Linked DNA regions of Homo sapiens. The protein of the gene in region 2 purifies or fractionates together with the protein of the main gene of each other region. This does not show direct contact. Each region holds a gene or a part of one and is shown on either strand. Other genes may lie near its edges.

Evidence for each region.
Region 1: the proteins of HPN (region 2) and UGT8 purify together in Homo sapiens (co-immunoprecipitation; 2 studies listed by BioGRID and IntAct, with this or other methods). This does not show direct contact.
Region 3: the proteins of HPN (region 2) and TIMP3 purify together in Homo sapiens (co-immunoprecipitation; 2 studies listed by BioGRID and IntAct, with this or other methods). This does not show direct contact.
Region 4: the proteins of HPN (region 2) and RAB3GAP1 purify together in Homo sapiens (co-immunoprecipitation; one large-scale study listed by IntAct). This does not show direct contact.

Annotation. Positions count from the first base shown.
Region 1 is NC_000004.12:114,622,807-114,626,306, reverse strand, and holds part of UGT8 (2-hydroxyacylsphingosine 1-beta-galactosyltransferase precursor), read right to left. Parts: exon of another isoform or gene 3,429-3,500; 5' UTR 3,427-3,428; coding exon 2,605-3,426; intron 1-2,604. UniProt on the Homo sapiens protein: Catalyzes the transfer of galactose to ceramide, a key enzymatic step in the biosynthesis of galactocerebrosides, which are abundant sphingolipids of the myelin membrane of the central nervous system and peripheral nervous system.
Region 2 is NC_000019.10:35,062,221-35,065,720, forward strand, and holds part of HPN (serine protease hepsin precursor), read left to right. Parts: intron 1-3,029; coding exon 3,030-3,125; intron 3,126-3,318; coding exon 3,319-3,461; intron 3,462-3,500. UniProt on the Homo sapiens protein: Serine protease that cleaves extracellular substrates, and contributes to the proteolytic processing of growth factors, such as HGF and MST1/HGFL. Plays a role in cell growth and maintenance of cell morphology.
Region 3 is NC_000022.11:32,804,705-32,808,204, forward strand, and holds part of TIMP3 (metalloproteinase inhibitor 3 precursor), read left to right. Parts: intron 1-3,500.
Region 4 is NC_000002.12:135,132,292-135,135,791, forward strand, and holds part of RAB3GAP1 (rab3 GTPase-activating protein catalytic subunit), read left to right. Parts: intron 1-603; coding exon 604-693; intron 694-1,569; coding exon 1,570-1,742; intron 1,743-2,973; coding exon 2,974-3,028; intron 3,029-3,272; coding exon 3,273-3,500. UniProt on the Homo sapiens protein: Catalytic subunit of the Rab3 GTPase-activating (Rab3GAP) complex composed of RAB3GAP1 and RAB3GAP2, which has GTPase-activating protein (GAP) activity towards various Rab3 subfamily members (RAB3A, RAB3B, RAB3C and RAB3D), RAB5A and RAB43, and guanine nucleotide exchange factor (GEF) activity towards RAB18.

The sequences.
Region 1 (3,500 bases), on a different chromosome or scaffold from region 2:
ATGCCCTGTAAATAATACAGGCATTTGAGAAACTCATTAACTTTTAGAATGAAAAGGTACAGTTTATTATCTCAAATAAATCTACTAGAAAAATCTCAGTGGGAACATGTGTTCATAAGCATATAAAACCACACCAGAATAAGGAATACCTGAAAGAGTACTGCACATCATTCTTCAAAATACTCCCTGCTCAAAAACTATAAATAACATTCTGAAATGAAAACAGCCCTTCACAATGATAATCTAATAGACTTCCAATAATAATAATATACTTATCTATGTCCACATACTATATATAACACATGCACACATGCCATGTCTGTGCATGCAACCAAACTAACTGGCACAAAGCAAACTTTGTAAACAAAAAACGCATTTCAAAAGAACCACTACAAATAGCCCAGAGGAAAAAGAACTCCACAAAGAAAGTCAAGCCAGTGTCAAATGAGAAATTATGGCAAATTAAAGGATATTTTGAGTAATACCTTATGTCGAGCACCAAAAACCACTAAAAAGATGTTTTTCATGTAAAACAAAATAGTGACACTAGTAAGGACATCTGTGTGCAGAGGAATCCATGACAGAAAAAAATGCTTGGATGGTAGAAAAAAAATTATCACATGCTATGCATCTTTTTGAAAGGTAGAGTATTGAAAATAAAACATAAAATATTTTCCTACACTTATACTGTGTCATTCAAGTTGCTGCAACTCAAGACAAATATACAGCAGGAACTGGAAGGAAAGAAAAGGCAATCAGGACAGGACATTCCTTTTTTTTTTTTTTTTTTTTTTTTTAGACAGGGTCTCACTCTGACACCTAGGCTGGAGTGTAGTGGTGTGATCTCAGCTCACTGCGGCCTCGACCTCCTGAACTCAAGTGATCCTCCCACCTCAGCCTCCTGAGTAGCTGGGACTATAGACATGCATCACCATACCCAGCTAATTTTTATTTTTTGTAGAGACAAGGTTTCACTATGTTGTCCAGGCTGGTCTCGAACTCCTGGACTCAAGTGATCCTCCTGCCTTGGCCTCCCAAAGTGCTGGGATTACAGGCATGGGACACCGCGTCCAGCTCCTTTTCATCATATACTTCTTCTTCAATCAAGTGACTGAAGAAGAGAGACATCACCCAGATGAAAACCAAAGGGAGCTGGCAGAAGGGGAGTGTTCTAGCTCGGAAAAGATGATGACCTAGAGAGAACAAGGATGATTTGTGTAACATTTTAAATGACTCAGTTAAGGTAAAGACACACCTTGATTACCAAATCTTTTAGAAGCTACTTCTAAAATCTGATTTTAGCTACCTTTAGGAAGGTGACTCTGCCAGAGAAGATCTGAGGATTCAAAATGAGCTTGGATAAATTCAAGAATGGCTAAGATAAGCTGAGATTAATCCCTATCCTTTACAGTTGACGTCAGAGAGAACAAGTGTGCCCTCATGGCCTCCAGTGGCTGTATATATTTGAAATGCTGTGGGTGTACAGGCCATTTCTGTTTCCATGTTATATGAAATATATCGATATATTATTTATTAATTATAACTCTAATGGCCATATTAGAAAAGCCTACAGGTCGTATATTTCTAATCACCTTATTGCCTCACGACAAAATTCAGCCATGTGATTGTCCTCATCTATACGAGAAAATCTGGATTTACTCTTCATCAAGGCCCTGATAGAATTTTTAATATGTAGTACCAGAACTAGAAATCAACAATTTAGCAAAATTGTTTTGAGTGGCTATTTCCAGAGGTAGGATTAAAAGTAACTTGAATAAAGTCCTGCAACAAGCCCTACACTTCCTAGTAAATGGGATCTGATGTTGAGGTTAAATTGAGAGATTCAATCTGAGGTTAGAAAACTCACTACAACAATAGGTATGTGTATGGCTTCTGCTAATGTGGGATACCTAATAAAAAACAAGGATGGTGAACAGAATACCAAGGGATTTACTGTTGGCTCAATCAATAAAAAGAATTTAAGTTTCACATAGAGAACAGAGTTTCTTAAAGTGCCATTGATTCCATCATTGAAATGAAATTGCAATAGAGCATGCTTTCCTTAAAACCATTACATTTACTTACTAGCTTAAATTAACCAACTCCCTACTTTGATGGAAGTTACCACCTCACTTTCATTATTGGACATAAACTAGTGGTAATAACCTCCCAGAGAAGAACCTCTGTTCACTGACCTGAAGCTAAACATATATACCTGTTAATTGTGCTATTTGGGGCAGAACAGAGGGGATTCTGTGTGTAATTAAAGATAAAATCACTTATACTCATTAAAATTAACCATTTAACTATATTCTCCTCACATACTATAACTATTACTTAATCAGAAAACTACTTCCCAGGCAGTCTATTGACCATATGGCATAGTGGTCTTTTCAGTATTACAGAAATGCTCATTCAAAGCAGGAATGTTTCCCAGGGAAGTGGTGGACCCACATAAAGGGACTTTGGAGGCCCCATGTCCTAATCACCTTTTAGTGTACTGTATATATACAATATATATAAATAACAAATCATATCTCTTCCAAAAATCAAAATTGACTTTTACATTAAAAAAGAATTACCAAGGAATTCGGCAAACCTTACTTCTGGTAGTGGGCTGGCTGGTTTGGTTAGGATTCCTCCTACATAAACAACATTAGGCAGAGTGGGTCTTGGGAATTCCAGTGCTACGTCAGTACACAGCATCCACAGGCTGGACCCATGAACCAAATCATACATGGACTTCTCTGGCAGCAGGTTGTACTTCTGCATTATCCTTTCATATTTGGGAAGAACCAGAAAGCTGACCCCTAATCTGGAAATGAGGTAAACACCGGTATTTTTCATCCTTTGCAGCAAGTTCATGCGGTCTGTGAGGAGTGAGTTAAACTCTGGGACGTATGCTAATGGAGCAGGAGCACCCACTTCAGCAGGATACCAAAGGCCAGTTGAAAATACAGCATATTTAACCCCTAAAAGATGAGCTATCACAAATCCACACATATCATTAGGGTCCACCAGCAGCAGGTCAAATTTTTCTTTCTTCAGACCCTGGATCAGGGCATGGTTGCCAACCATCAGGTCACAGTTCTTAGTATAGTGATCCAGTATGTCAAACAGTTCGATTGCTGTCAATCTCCCAGAGAAAATATTCCGCATCTTGGACTGTAGGAAAGCATCTGAGGTGGTACTGTTAAAGATCCCTGGGTAGCGCTGGAGGCTGTAATGATTAGATGGGGCGATGTCTCTGCCTTCAGAGAGGAGGAACACTGTATGGTGGCCTCTCTCGTGCAAGGCTGAGGCTAGCGTCTTGAAAATGTACATATGGCTTTCAAACATAATTGGCGGCACGATGATGATTTTGGCAGCCTTCGCTATCCCAACAGCACTCCACAGGAGAATGAAATATGGAGTGTAAGACTTCATAGCTGTAATAACAACCAGAAAACAACTTAAAACAAAATACAATGCTCACCATTCAAAACAAGCAATCACAAAGC
Region 2 (3,500 bases):
GGAGGTGACTGGTGAAGGACACAAGGTTTCTTGTCTGGGTGATGAAAGATTCTAAGTCGATCATGATCATGGTTGCACTTGTCTGTGACTACACAAAAAGCCAGTGACTTGTGCCTTTAAAAGGAATTGTCTAATATGTGAATAGTAGTTCAATCAAGCTGTTACCAAAAAACTAATAAAATGAAAAGAAAATGTGTTAAAAATGAATGAATCAGACTTAGAAAGTAAGTTAGGAGTCATTCCCTCTGCAATTCCCTGGAGTATTCCCTTGGTCTTACTGAGACTCACTTAGGTGCCAACATGTCCTTAACACCTCTCCAACACATACATCTTCCTTTTGGATTAAAAGCAGGCCCTGGGCTTCAGATTTCAGCAGGCTGCAGTGTAATAATAATAATAAAAATAGGCTGGGCATGTAATCCCAGGCCAAGGTGGGGGTATCGCTTGAGCTCAGGAGTTCAAGACTCGCCTGGGCAACATGGCAAAACCCCATCTCTACAAACAAAAAAAATTAGCTGGCTGTGGTGGTGCGCGCCTGTGGTCCCAGCTACTTGGGAGGCGGAGGCAGGAGAATCACCTGATCACCCAGGAGATCAAGGCTGCAGTGAGCCATGATCACACCACTGCATTCCAGCCTGGTTGATAGAGCGAGACCCTGTCTCAGAACATAATAATAATAACGGTGATAATGATGATCATGAAGTAGTAATAGCGAGTAGTATTCGAGTTCATGATTGAGTATTCGAGTATAGCGAGTTCATGATCATGAAGTAGTAAAAGGGAATAAGGGAGTACATGATGAGTGTACACAACACAGTAAAATAATCTGGTAAACATAGCAGTGTGCCAGGCACCATTCCAAATATGTCCTGTGTATGGACTCACTTAGTTCTCACAGCAACCCCAGCACACCCTGGTAAGGAGGGTTCTCTTAAGATCCTGTTTTCCACCCAGGAAAAGGTCCCAACCCAAAGAAGGCAAACAATGCCCCAAATTCGTACAGCTGGTGAACGGCAAAGATTTGTGCCCAGGTGGACTGGCACTGGAATCTGTGCTTGTGGCCCCCACGCTGTGGTGACGGAGAATCCAGGGCCATGTTGGGGTTGGCATTATGTTTATTTTTATGTTTATTTTATTTTTCATGATCTGTGGTACTGGTTTCCCATTGAAGGGAGTGATACATGCTTTTCTTTAAAACCAAACCCTGTCCTGACATGGTGGCTCACGCCTGTAATCCCAGCACTTTGAGAGGCTGAAGCGGGCAGATCACTTGAGGTCGGGAGTTTGAGACCAGCCTGGCCAACGTGGTGAAACCCCATCTCTACTAAAAACACAAAAATTAGCCAGGTGTAGTGGCAGGCACCTGTAGTCTCAGCTACTCTGGAGGCAGAGGCAGGAGAATCACTTGAACCCAGGAGGTGGAGGTTGCAGTGAGCCAAGATCGTTGCCACACCCTTCTCCTTAGTGAAAAGAGTGAGAGAGTTAATATTGAAGTAAGGACGCATCTTTGAGGACAGGTGGACAGGTGGAAGCGGCTGGGATTTCAGACACAGGGCTGAGGGGGTCACAGCATGGGCTTTGGGGTCAGATTCAGATATTTGCCAACTGTGTGATCTTGGACACATGGCTTCACCTCACCGTGCCTCAGTTTCCCTTATCTGTAAAATGACTTCCTAGGGTTATTGAGACAATTAAAAGGGTTAATATGAGTAAAGAGCTTAGAGAACTGCCAGCACATAGTGAACACTGGTAAATGTTAGCAATTGCTACTATTGTTGTTTAATACTTTTACTAGTTATATGAACACTTGCTGTTTGCCTGGCATGCAACTCAATGACTCACCAATTTCTCACTACAACTTCTGGGGATAAGTGATTATTATTTCCATTCTACATCTGAGAGCTCTAAGACTCAGGCAGGTGATGTCATCAGCAGGCAGCAGGCAGCAGGCAACAGGCAGGGCTGCCAGGAACCCTTGCATAGGTTGTGCACTGCACAAGGACACCACATCTCAGGGTTACCACTCTCTCTGTAGACCTGTGTATTTATTATTATGATTTTCTGCTAGGTGGAAGTCAAATGTCTCAAGATAGGAGTGTCTCTCTCTCTCTCTCTCTCTTTCTTCTCTCTCTCTCTTTCTTTTTTTGAGACAGAGTCTTGCTCTGTCACCCAGGCTGGAGTGCAATGGCGCAATCTCGGCTCCCTGCAAACTCTGCCTCCTAGGTTCAAGCGATTCTCCTGCCTCAGCCTCCTGAGTAGCTGGGATTACAGGCACCTGCCATCTGTAATCCCAGTGCTTTGGGAGGCTGAGGCAGGAGGATTGCTTGAGCCCAGGAGGTCGAGGCTGCAGTGAGCCATGTTCCTGCCACTGCACTCTGGCCTGGGTGACACTGCAGGCTTAGAAATGAAAACAAGCTGTGTTAAAACATACATGTTATGAAACTTTGGACACGTGACTTGGCCTCATTTTCCCCCTCTCTAAAATGGGATAATATAGACCCTACCTCTCTGGGCTGATGAAACATTAAAGAAAATGGTGCAGGAAGGCGCCTAGTATGCGATGAGCTCTTGGTACGTGGCGACTTCCGTTGTGGCTTTTTTGTTTGTTTGTTTGTTTTTGAGACAGAGTCTTGCTCTGTCGCCCAGGCTGGAGTGCAATGACATGATCTCGGCTCACTGCAACCTCCACCTCCTGGGTTCAAGTGATTCTTCTGCCTCAGTCTCCCGAGTAGCTGGGATTACAGGTGCGTGCCACCATGCCCGGCTAATTTTTGTATTTTTAGTAGAGATGAGGTTTCGCCACGTTGGCCAGGCTGGTCTCAAACTCCTGACATCAAGTGATCCTCCTGCCTCGGCCTCCCAAAGTGCTGGGATTACAGGCATGAGCCACTGTGCCCAGCCTATTGTGGTTTTTTTTTTAAAGAACAGAGAGGGCAGGGTGTGTTAGGGGCCATGGTAGCAGCTGGACAGAGGTTTGTACCAGGTGGGGCAGGCCAGCGGGGGCTGGACCAGCATTGTCTCTCTCACAGAATACATCCAGCCTGTGTGCCTCCCAGCTGCCGGCCAGGCCCTGGTGGATGGCAAGATCTGTACCGTGACGGGCTGGGGCAACACGCAGTACTATGGTGAGTCCTGTCCTCTGCCTCTGATGCCACCGTTTGGGAGACTCTGAACTAGGCTGGGGATGGGCAGTCTGGCTGGTTGGATGAGTCTTGACCATGAGGAGTAGGGACGCTGAGGGGAATGGGGTGGGCACCAGGAGGGAAGGGGGGTGTGTACACCCCCCAGCTCTGGCCAGCCTTGCCTGCACACCCCCAGGCCAACAGGCCGGGGTACTCCAGGAGGCTCGAGTCCCCATAATCAGCAATGATGTCTGCAATGGCGCTGACTTCTATGGAAACCAGATCAAGCCCAAGATGTTCTGTGCTGGCTACCCCGAGGGTGGCATTGATGCCTGCCAGGTGAGGGACTCTGTAGGGGCAGCCCCCTGGTCGCTGCCA
Region 3 (3,500 bases), on a different chromosome or scaffold from region 2:
AGTTAAAAGGTGTTTCTATGGCAACTCCAGGCCCTGCACCCTATGGAAGTGTTTAGGAGAAGAATAAACTACATGCCGGCTTATAAGACACACTGTGGGGGAAAGAAAGGGACTTGGCAGCAGGCAGGATGTCTGTGGTCCCCCTCCCTGGCCAGTCATTGCCCCTGAAACTCCTGACAAAACCTTGACTCTAGAAGAGGAATGGGAGGGGGCTGGAGATGAAGAAGGCGGCCTCGGCCCGGGCAAATCTGCCCTGGCAGCTCTGTCCAGCTCAGGAAGGGGTGGGCTGTGCCAAGGGCTTTCTGAAAATGTGCGTGTGTGCGTGTGTGTGTGTGTGCGCGTGTGTGGCTTCTGCAAAGGTGGCTGGCAGGGCTGAGGGGGGTTGCAGCAGAGAAAGAGAATTTTGCTTCAGAATGCCAAGCCCTTCTCTCCTTCTCTCTTGCCGCCTTTGCATGGGAGGAATGGGGCTGTAGGATGAAGTGTGTTCGGGGCCTGCCTCTGAGCCTGTTGGGAATTTGAGCATGAGGCTCAGCTGGGGGGCCGGCTGCCAGCCCCAGAGGATGGCCCCTGGATAGCTCCAAATTGTTCTGACAGGGGCCAGTGCCAGCAGATTCTTTCAGTATCAGATCTGAGGTTGTCGTTTTAGCAAAGAAGCCATTTTCAAAGAAACCAGATCCATCCCCTCTCCCTCTTACACACAATTACACCTCAACACTGGGCTTTGCAACTTAAGGAAAATAGAAAGAATCAGACTTTGGAGAGGCGCCAGCACTTGGTAGGGCAAGTCTGGGGGACCCAGGCTGTGGATGTCTTGGAACCATGGAAGGAGGAGAGCTGCTATCCAGCTGGAGGAGGGAAGAGACATGTCTTAGGCCCCTCCTGGTTGCACGCACTTCCCAAATGCCATCTCTTTCACCCCCTCCCCCGACCCCCCACAGCAACCTTAAGAGTAGGTATTGCACCCATTTTTCAGATGGAAAACACTGAGGCTGAAGAGACTGTGCTTGTCCAAGGCCACCCAGTTGCTAAATGATAAAGCTAAAACGTATTATCAGTTATACCATGCTTCAAAAACCTTTCAACTTTCATTGACACATGACATTCTAAGGTGACCAGGAGATGGAATGGATGGTTAACATTTGAAGAATGCTTTTCTTCTACATCTGGGTTTTCTTTAAAAATATGAAGATAGCCAAAATGGCCAGAGGTTTTAATTAAACATCATCTTTAGGGAGGGAGAGCTTATTATTATTCTAGTGTATCATAGAGGAAAATTCTAATGTTCTTTGGCTATTAGATCTGGAAAAGACCCTTGAAACCATCAAGCCACAGTAATAAAAGGACTTGGTTTGTCTCACTGTGGCCCAAGGAGAAGTAAGGTTAATAGAGACAAGACATTTCAGGGCTTCAAGACTCTTCCCTTAAAGGTGGGATCAGTTAGGGCTCCCCAGTGGGAGGTACCCGGTCTGCCAGTGTGGTAGGAGGAAAGCCAGGGGGAGTCAGGAGACTGGGTCCCAGCTGGAGAAGGTGCCCCTCTGACAGTTCTGTGTCCCTTTCACAGTCCCTGGATAGATAAGGCTAGAAAAGTGGCCACAGAAGTAGCTTGGGTGGAGGGATTTTTGTTTGTTTTGCATGAACAGCAGGAACCATTCAGCTCCACTGCTGAATGGCACATTCCAACAGGTTCATTAATTAAAAACAAAAACAACAACACGATTCTCCATCGCACTTGGCTTTTACCATTCCAGCCAGTATGGACAAGGAGGCCCCTTCTTCTACCTTTTGTCATAGTCTACTCCTGGGTGGCCTTGAGAGGCAGGGTGGAGTGGTGGAAAGGCAATGGGGAGGGCAGATCTGAGCTCCACTCCTTCCTCTGGGGCTTGTTGGCTGTGTGTGCCTAGGCACATATGGGCTACCTTTGAGCTTTAGTTTTCTTATTTATACAAGGGGAATAACAATTTGTACCATCTTGGCCTGTTTTATCTATATTTTAAAAGCTACAAGTATATGAATACATTCTATGTCCATGTATGTATCTCTCTGTATATCTATGATATATCCATTTCTATTTATCATTTATCATCTATCTATCTATCTCTCTATCTAAAATCGGAGAAGAGTAAAATCCTTTCTGATTACTTTTTCTAACTCTAGTCCCTTCTCCAAATCCTTTTCTTCCTATACATTTACATACATAGGTATCCATAGCAAATTTATAGTAGTTTTTCCCTTAGAAACATGAATAGTAGAACATTAAACATCATGGAATACCACATAATACCACATATAGTATTCTGCTTGTTTCCCATTCAACAATGCGTACTAGAGATCTTTCTACTTAATATATATATAAAACTGTCAGAGGAGCACCTTCTCCAGCTGGGACCCAGTCTCCTGACTGCCCCCCTGGCTTTCCTCCCACCACATTGGCAGACTGGGTAGCTCCCCCTGGGGACCCCTAACTCATCCCCACCTTTAAGGGAAGAGTCTTGGAACCTTGAAATGTCTTGTCTCTATTAACTTTACTTCTCCCTGGCCACAGTGAGACAAACCAAGTCCTTTTATTACTGTGGATTGATGGTTTGGAGGATATATATATATAAATATATAATATATAAATATATAATTTATATATAATATATAAATATATAATATATAATATATATTATATATAATATATATTATATATAATATATATATATTATATTTACATATATATTATATATATAATATATATATTTCTTTTATGTATTTCATGAGGTTATAATTTTAAACAGCTAATAAGTATAGAGTGATTACTATGTGCCAGGCATTATTCTAAGTCATTAACTTACATTAACTCATTTAATTCTCTCAGTTTTATGAGGGAGGTGTGCTATTGTCATCTCCATTTTACAGCTGAGGAAACTGAGGCTTAGAAAAATGAGGTAACTCGTTTAAGGTTATACTGCTAGCAAGGAATACAGCCTGTATTTAAGCCCCTTCACCCTGGCTCTAAAATATATTTAACAACTATACTATAGGTCACATTATACCATATCATATTATATATACTACTACATACTCTTATATTATTATAATTATATAATATGCATTTTCAATTTTAATAGTTCCTGCCAATTTGGCCTCCACAGTGGCTGTGTTAACACAGTTCTTTTCATATATGCAACATGAGGGGATGGAGGAATGTTAGAGCCCTGTGCTTAAGAGACTCCCATGCTTCTCTCAAATAGAAAAACAATTTATAATTTTTATTGACTTACTGAGTGTTTTTTTTCCTTCTTTTTGTCTCTTTGAAAGGGAGCAAAATTAGGGCCACGAAGATCAAGTTAATGGGAGTATTTTCATAGGGAGAGGAAGGCTGCAATGCCAGGAAAGCTGTGACCCTTGACTTGTTGCATGCTGGAGTAATTCGGTTGAAGATAGCTTTATGTATTTATTTTGCTTTCAGAATAAGCAGTGGACCATTTATTACACCAAGTTGTTTGACTTTGAGGACT
Region 4 (3,500 bases), on a different chromosome or scaffold from region 2:
GTAGCTCAGTTGTCATGTACACTGGATTTTTTTTTGACCACTCGTACATGTACATATAAACAGAAACCACATGGAAAAGGTACATTGGTTATTATAGGTTTAGACTGCTTCCTACTTTCCAGGGGTATCATAAAATAAAGCTGTGGGTCTTGAATATCATCTCTTAGTAGTCTATATATGAAAGCCTGTGGATGATGTAACTCTTCAGATCCTCATGAGTACATGAGTGTTTTTAAATTGTCTTTTGTGGTTTTGTTTTTTAGATAGTAGTAACACTAAAAAAATGTAATGGCCTTGGGTGAGCATGAAGTCACAGTGATGAGATTTTGCTTTTGCACCTTTCAGCTTACAGAATCAAGTGATTACTTTTAAGAAAAAAATTCTAATTTCTAAAATTGGCTAGTCACTGAAACCTTGTATATTTTCAAAGAAAAATAGAAAAAATTTGAGAGTGTAGAACAAACTGGCCAATACAACTGGAACATTTCTATTGTTAGAGCAGCAAAACCATTAAAAAGTTAAATAATGTCTATATGAGTTATAAAAATCAACAAAATAGGAAATGTGGTCTAAAATGTGATTATTTTTTTCCTTTCCTTCAAGTTCTTATTCCCTGATGCTGTTTCTGAGAAACCATTAGATGGAACTACTTCAACAGATAATAATAATCCTCCATCAGAGAGTGAAGACTATGTAAGTTGATGTGGAGTTCAATGTTAAAATGTTTTAAATGCACTGAATTTCTAGAGGTTCTATATATTTCTAGTTTAATAGCTTACTATATTTTTATTTTAAAAATCACCTTGGGAATTTTGGATGGCAGATCGTGGTTTCCACTTAGATAACTAGCACAGATACATATTTTGGGTAGCAAGAATTTTTCTGGAAACAATGAAAAAATAGCACAAATATACTCTACACAGCTGTAGGATTTCCCTCATTGTAGAGTTTTGGTGAAATCATTAAATTTGTGTTTCTCAGCAGATTCTTTTTGATATTTTAAAACTAGTTAGTGAATGGACAACTCTTTAATGAAGTAAAATGTGTAAAATTAGGTAAAATTTTCATGGTCTCTTTGTCTAGTCTTTGAAAAATTAAGAAGTTGAAGAATTTAAATGACAAGTGTAGATATATATCAACCTTTACAGTAGTTATTGTTGAGAAGTAGATTTGATGAGGTGAGAGAAAAAAGCAAAGGCTTTTTACATTTTCAGTTTAGATAGTTATGATTTTTGTTTTTTCAGACGTGCTCATTTTTGTAATTAAAAGATTTTTAAAACAACACATGAAATTTGGAATACTTCCTAAATATTCCACAGAAGAAATTGAAAGCTGTAACTTTAGCTTCATTAAACTATAGCTTTATCTTTTTTAATCTTAGTAGAAATCTTGAAAATGTGGGACTTCCTAAGAATAGTTTATGCAGTAGTGTATTAGACATTTGATAATGCCTAGTTTAGGTGGGATAGGTTAATTTTACAATTAAAATCTCTCCCTACGACCTTTTCAGTTATATGTGTAAAATATTTTGGTAACAAGTTTGCTTTGTTTCTATTTTGTTAAATTTAGAATCTCTACAATCAGTTCAAGTCTGCACCATCTGACAGTTTAACATACAAACTGGCTTTGTGTCTCTGTATGATCAATTTTTACCATGGAGGGTTGAAAGGAGTGGCACACCTCTGGCAGGAATTTGTTCTTGAAATGCGTTTCCGATGGGAAAACAACTTTCTGATTCCAGGGTAATAATTTCAATTTTCAATTGTTTGGATACGATTTTGTTTGTTAGCAGACATTTGACTTTTGACCTATTTTTTCCCCCTTCTAGGAAGTCTGCCCTAAGAAAGTGGCAAGAAGCTTAGACATGATTTATGTTCAGAGGTGTTCACTGCAGCAAATTTATTAATATAATAGAAAAAAAGGCAAAACCTAAATATCAAACATAAAAGAATAGTTAAATAAATTATACTGTATCTCTACAATAGAAAATTAGATTGATTACAGTTTTTCCCCCAATAATCTTTAATAACAGATGTTCATATTGTTTCTAATAAAGTAGAATATTTTAATGCATATACAAAGTACTTTTAATTATGTTGCTATATTTGTACAGGAAAAATATTATAAATACTGTGAAATGCTATCAGTTTTTCCCAGTGTGAAATTATACTTTTATTTTGTTCTTTATACTTTTATGCATTTTCAAAGTCTTTTGTAATAAACCTGTTTTTTGTAATTGACATTTTACTTAATCAAACAGAACATTTTCATTAGCACATAGGTTGATATTGCATAGTTTAGTGCTCATCTACCCATGCTATGATAGGAGAATCATGATTTTGAGCAATATAAAATGATTACTGATCCAAAAACATTTATATCATTTGCCAATCTCTGCTTAGCTGGATTCTCTCTTGGTTTTAGACAGTCCGCTCTGGAACATTTTACAGACCCAGAAGCATGTTGAATATGAGGGAGTGCCTCTGGCTGATTGCTGGGAACCTAGTAGTCTAGAGGAACCTAGAACTAGAGACAGTCCAAGGTCCTATTGAAATACAGGTGGAGATCTTGGTTTTTATAGTGAGAATCCACTGTAAGAATTTAGTACTGAATACACAAACTGATTTATTTTGTATGGTGTGAAATACTGTATGCTAGTACTTCCTGGAGTGGGTTCAGGGGCTTTTTCTCATTTTGAGTTTTTGTTAGCCTGAAAACTATCACTAATTTGCTGTTATGTTTTGAAATATCTATTATATTTGCTATTGGTGATTTGTGGACAAGGAGTATAAAATAAATTTTCATCTTTTAATTCTATGTGCTCCCCCTCTGGAATTCACTTACCTTACCTGTGGAAATCTAGTTTTGATTTCTTATCAATATAGCTAAAAATTATGGTAGTATAGAAAATAATCATATCTGAAGCAATTTTACTAAAACTAAGCTTTCTTTTCTCCTTACTTTATTTGATAGATTAGCAAGTGGACCCCCAGATCTGAGGTGTTGTTTACTGCATCAGAAACTACAGGTAAAGATTTCTCAATGACATGGATAAATGTGGTCTTGATTTAATCAGATTATTCTAATACTAAATGTAATAATGGGTTACATGCTGTTCTCATGGTGCTGCTGTAGGTTGCCTATAGTCAGTAGTCACTGCAATTCACAAGGTCCTGAGAAGTGGAGAGTGAAAATTAAATATTCAAGCAGTAGGTAGATTTTTATTTTTCTGTAACTAATTCAACTATAAATGTTATTTCTCTTTTCTTAAGATGTTAAATTGTTGTATTGAAAGAAAGAAGGCACGTGATGAGGGGAAAAAGACAAGTGCTTCAGATGTCACTAATATATATCCAGGGGATGCTGGAAAAGCAGGAGACCAGTTGGTGCCAGATAATCTAAAAGAAACAGATAAGGAAAAGGGAGAGGTAGGAAAATCTTGGGATTCCTGGAGTGACAGCGAAGAAGAATTTTTTGAATGCCTAAGTGATACTGAAGAA